Linked DNA regions of Homo sapiens: region 2 is linked to region 1. The links come from fine-mapping of genetic effects on gene expression. A gene starts in region 1. The other region holds a variant in brackets. All regions are shown on one strand. Distances are from middle to middle.

Region 1 (2,826 bases):
GACTCTTAGTTTTTATCAAATAACCAAATGGAAATAGGAAGTAGCCAGTAGATTATCTCTACAGCTAAACAAAACAAACAAAGCAGAAACCTGCAAAAGACAAAGCATTCTTGAAAAATGAAGTAAGGTCCTAGAGAAGCTATTTCCACCATCCAACACCAGCTGAATTCCCAAATGGTTAAACTTTCACTATAAGTGCTACCCCACTCCAAGTAAAAACTACCTAACACATGGGAGTAGTAAACATGAAACATTGCTCTCATTTATTTAATAGTCGTCACCTTGTAAATAAATATGAGTACATCAGATCTCCAGTTATGGGGCTGGAAGATTTTTAGCATAAGGACAAGTAGGATGCAGAGGAAAAAGGGAGAATGGCTAGAGGCATAGCAAATAATTATTTTCTGTAACACGGAAGACTTTTATCCTATTTATTTACAAGGGAAACCCTCGATTACAACTTGTCTATTAGGTTCTGAGACCTTTTGTGAAATCAGACCCCCAAAAAAGCCGGGGGGATCTGTGAAAAACAGATCCAAGTGTATTTGATATTTGGCATTCTCCGGTGTCCCTCCCACTTGTCACTTTCTTTTCTGATCCGTTTCAGATTCATTCCATATCCTTTTCATATTCATTTTATGTTGATCCTCTTGTCCCTCCTCCCTCATTTTCGTGGTTCCTTCTCCCTCCTCGTCTCATTAAAACTCTTGCAAATCTCCCTTTCTGCTTGCTCTTCTGTTTGCGGTAGCTGCTGAAATCTTACCGAAGTGATGTATATTCTGAAACTTCTGCGGGTTTCTAAGTGACATTGAGCATGCTCAGTAGCTAGGGCCGGTTTTGTTCGCTTGGAAATCTCCCTTTCTGCTTGCTCTTCTGTTTGCGGTATCTACTGAAATCTTACCGAAGTGATGTATATTCTGAAACTTCTGTGGGTTTCTAAGTGACACTGAGCATGCTCAGTAGCTAGAGCCGGTTTTGTTCGCCAGCAGATGGCCTGATTCGACCTCTCCAAAAATAGACATTTTAACTCTCTGAACTCCTGTTTAAGGAAGGATGTAATTCGCTTTGCTCTCTCCTCATTTTCAAGGTTCAAAGGGAAGCTGCGAGGATTCCAAGGTCCCACCGCCCTCACAGCCAATGAGGGGCCTGGGAGGGAGGAGCTTGGTGCAGCTTGAGCTTCTGAGAGAATCATTCCCGGTAGATGCAGCGGAGTCTGAGCTCTGCTGCATCTGTCACAGCAGAACAAAATTAAAAACACAACAGTGGAAGAGAAACGCTGCAGACTATGGGACGCTGTAGGACTTTCTAAAACATTTGCTGGGGATTTCTGTGAAGCATGATCTTTTAAAACGAATTCTTTTGGAAGCCGGTTTGGGTAACTGGGAAAATGACACATATGCTAAATGCAGCAGCTGATCGAGTGAAATGGACCAGATCGAGTGCTGCTAAGAGGGCTGCCTGCCTGGTGGCTGCGGCATATGCTCTGAAAACCCTCTATCCCATCATTGGCAAGCGTTTAAAGCAATCTGGCCACGGGAAGAAAAAAGCAGCAGCTTACCCTGCTGCAGAGAACACAGAAATACTGCATTGCACCGAGACCATTTGTGAAAAACCTTCGCCTGGAGTGAATGCAGATTTCTTCAAACAGCTACTAGAACTTCGGAAAATTTTGTTTCCAAAACTTGTGACCACTGAAACAGGGTGGCTCTGCCTGCACTCAGTGGCTCTAATCTCAAGAACCTTTCTTTCTATCTATGTGGCTGGTCTGGATGGAAAAATCGTGAAAAGCATTGTGGAAAAGAAGCCTCGGACTTTCATCATCAAATTAATCAAGTGGCTTATGATTGCCATCCCTGCTACCTTCGTCAACAGTGCAATAAGGTACCTGGAATGCAAATTGGCTTTGGCCTTCAGAACTCGCCTAGTAGACCACGCCTATGAAACCTATTTTACAAATCAGACTTATTATAAAGTGATCAATATGGATGGGAGGCTGGCAAACCCTGACCAATCTCTTACGGAGGATATTATGATGTTCTCCCAATCTGTGGCTCACTTGTATTCCAATCTGACCAAACCTATTTTAGATGTAATGCTGACCTCCTATACACTCATTCAAACTGCTACATCCAGAGGAGCAAGCCCAATTGGGCCCACCCTACTAGCAGGACTTGTGGTGTATGCCACTGCTAAAGTGTTAAAAGCCTGTTCTCCCAAATTTGGCAAACTGGTGGCAGAGGAAGCACATAGAAAAGGCTATTTGCGGTATGTGCACTCGAGAATTATAGCCAATGTAGAAGAAATTGCCTTTTACAGAGGACATAAGGTAAGATAGAAATTAAGGTGATGGGTGAAATGTGAAACTGTTCAAGTTGCCACTGCAGTGCCAGATACCATCTGTTGTCCTGTCGATGGACCCACTTCTTTAGTGTCTTAGATTCCTCTGACATCTAAACCTGAATTAAAATATATGCTTCATTACCCCTTTTAACTGTAACCAGTTAAAGGATTATAGGGTGCAAACTTTTCTAAAGTTTCAGAAGAATAAAATTTGCAACACTCTAAAAAAGTCTACTTAGCCTCAGTTACTCAAATATGCTCAGAATTATTTCTAACGCATTTTCTTAAAACTTAAATCCCAACTTGGTAGGTCATCCTAAAGCACCTACCAGAAGAAAATATATATTTAGAAACTAAGACTAAACATATTTCCACTGAAATGGAAAATTTAGAATGATATTCTTTGTTGTTCCTTTGTTGTCCAAGAGGGGGGAAGAGCCAGGGTTTCTTATAGAAGACATTTTTAACAATTTTGCATGTCTGATC
Region 2 (2,826 bases), 190 kb before region 1:
TAATTATATCATCAAAAGATGAAATTCTTAAAGATAAATTTAGCAAGAAATAACAGGATCACTACACTGAACACTATAAAATATTACCGAGTGAAATTAAAGAAGATCTAACTAAGTAGATCACACTCGTGGATAAGAAGACTTAATATGGTTAAGATGTCGGTTCTTCACTTTTACATTGTTGGTGGGACTGTAAACTAGTCCAACCATTGTGGAAGTCAGTGTGGCGATTCCTCAGGGATCTAGAACTAGAAATACCATTTGCCCCAGCCATCCCATTACTGGGTATATACCCAAAGGATTATAAATCATGCTGCTATAAGACACATTCACACATATGTTTATTGCGGCACTATTCACAATAGCAAAGACTTGAAACCAACCCAAATGTCCAACAATAATAGACTGGATTAAGAAAATGTGGCATATATACACCATGGAATACTATGCAGCCATAAAAAAGGATGAGTTCATGTCCTTTGTAGGGACATGGATGAAGCTGGAAACCATCATTCTCAGCAAACTATCGCAAGGACAAAAAAACCAAACACCGCATGTTCTCACTCATAGGTGGGAACTGAACAATGAGAACACATGGACACAGGAAGGGGAACATCACACACCAGAGACTGTTGTGGGGTGGGGGGATGGGGAAAGGATAGCATTAGGAGATATACCTGATGCTAAATGACGAGTTAATGGGTGCAGCACACCAACAGGGCACATGTGTACATATGTAACAAACCTGCACGTTGTGCACATGTACCCTAAAACTTAAAGTATAATAATAATTTTTAAAAAAGATGTCAGTTCCTTTTAAGTTGATCTCTAGATCAACTCAAGTAATTCTAATCATAATCCCTATAAACAGTTCTATAAAAAATGACAAGCTCGTTCTGAAATTTATATAGAAATGCAAAAGAACTGGAATGGCCAAAACATTCCTGAAAAAGAAAGACATGCCCTATCTGATTTCAAGACTTACTATAAAGTTACAGTAATCCAGACAATGTGATGTTGGTAAAATAGACATAAACATCAAGGGAACAGAATAAAGTCCAGAAATAGATCCATATATGCATGGCCAATTGATTTTCAATAAAAAAACCAAATTAATCCAATGGGGAAAGAATAGTCTTTTCAACAAATGGTCCTAATACAGTTGGCTATCTACATTGCGGGTGAAGGTGGAGGGAATGGACCTCAACTCTTACACCCTAAACACAAAAAAGCTCAATATACATCATAGACCTAATAGTAAAAGCTAAAATCATAAAACATTTATAAGGAAACATAGGAGGAAATCTTTGCGACATCAGGGTAAGCAAGTAGATAGGACACAAAAAGCACACACAACAAAAGAAAAAATTGATATATTGGAGTTCATTAAAATTAAAATTGTCTACTCTTTGAAAGACATTGTTAAGAGAATACAAAGCCCAAGCCACAGACCGGAAGTATTATTTACAATAAGTATATCTAACAAAGGAATTATGAATAAAGAATTCTTACAACTTAAAATAAATAAAGCAACCTTTCAAAAGACGCCAAAAGATTTGAACAGACAAGTCACAAAAGACTATAAAAAGATGGCAAATAAGCACATAGATATAATGTTCAACATTATTAATCATTAAAGAAATGCAAAAAAATTATAGTGACATGCTACAGCACACCAACTAGAATAGCTAAAATGAAAAAGTCAAAATATCA[AGTGTTGG/G]TGAGGTTGTGAAGCATCATGTTAATGGGAATGTAAATTGGTACAAACACTTCAGAAATCAGTTTGGAGGTTTCTTCTGAAGTTAATCACATCTTTTCCATACAACCCAGTAATTCAATTATGACACATTTAGTCAAATGAAATAAAATGTGTCCAACAAATGTTTCTACACAGTCGTTTATAGCAGCCTTATTCATAATGGACAAAATTGGAAATTACGTAGATGTTACTTCAACAGGTGAGTGGATAAACAAATTATGATACACCCATATAATTAAATACTACCCAGATAGATGGAAGGAATTACTGATATGTCCAGTAACCTGGTACAATTTCAGAAACATTGTGTTGGGCAAAAAAGCCAGATACAAAACAATATATACTGTACAAGTATTTATATAAAATTCTAGAAGAGCAAACCCAATCTCTATTGACCAGAAATAGCTCAGTTATTGACTGGAGTTGGGCATGAAGGAAATTTTTGGTGTTATGGAAATGTTTACTCTCTTGTCTGTGGTAGTGGTTACATGGATTTATACATTGTCAAAACTCATTGACTTACACGTAAAATTGGTACACTTTATATTTTGTATATTATACATGAATAGATGATTAAAGTACTGGATTTCTTGACTTCCAAGAATTATAGCATACAAAATTATATCTTCCTAGCTATTTTCAAAGGGCAGACTAATTCTACTTTAAGCAAACAGCATTTGATGACACTTTTCATCACAGACAAGATTCTCCTGGTACGATTATTAAAAGTTGGCTTAGGCAACTTTTATAGCTAGACTCACCTAGGGGGAGAAGACCCAACTCTCCATTATTATAATTATTATAATTGAAAGGGTGCACTTAGAAGAAATGGACAAAATTCCTGATAACACAAATTTCCAAAACACAAAAAGAAATAGAAAAACTAAATCATGTATCCATTTTAATCACCAGATTTATTTGCTTGTAGCTTACCTGCAGGTTTAACAGTACCTTTGAAAGCAAATGAGTAGCCTAGCTGATATTTATCAAGTCTTATAGCCACCCTTTACTTGTTTTTCAATTAGTGTTTTTATTTTGAAATAACTATATATTTACATGCAGTTTTA

Evidence for each region. PIP is the estimated chance that this variant, and not a neighbour inherited with it, causes the effect.
Region 2: its variant is fine-mapped to the expression of ABCD2 in whole blood (TOPMed, PIP above 0.99).

What each region holds. Positions count from the first base shown.
Region 1 is chr12:39,618,177-39,621,002 of GRCh38, reverse strand. It overlaps ABCD2 (ATP binding cassette subfamily D member 2), which reads left to right and starts at 1,200. Exons shown (of 10, transcript NM_005164.4): 1 at 1,200-2,326. The coding sequence starts at 1,388. RefSeq lists enhancers at 889-1,408, 1,719-1,798.
Region 2 is chr12:39,807,479-39,810,304 of GRCh38, reverse strand. All of the region lies in intron 7 of SLC2A13 (solute carrier family 2 member 13), which reads left to right. It also overlaps a transcript of REDIC1 not described here. Among named protein-coding and RNA genes, the nearest start is that of REDIC1, 180 kb to the right of the region's middle. The variant AGTGTTGG/G (reference allele first, on the strand shown) is at 1,714.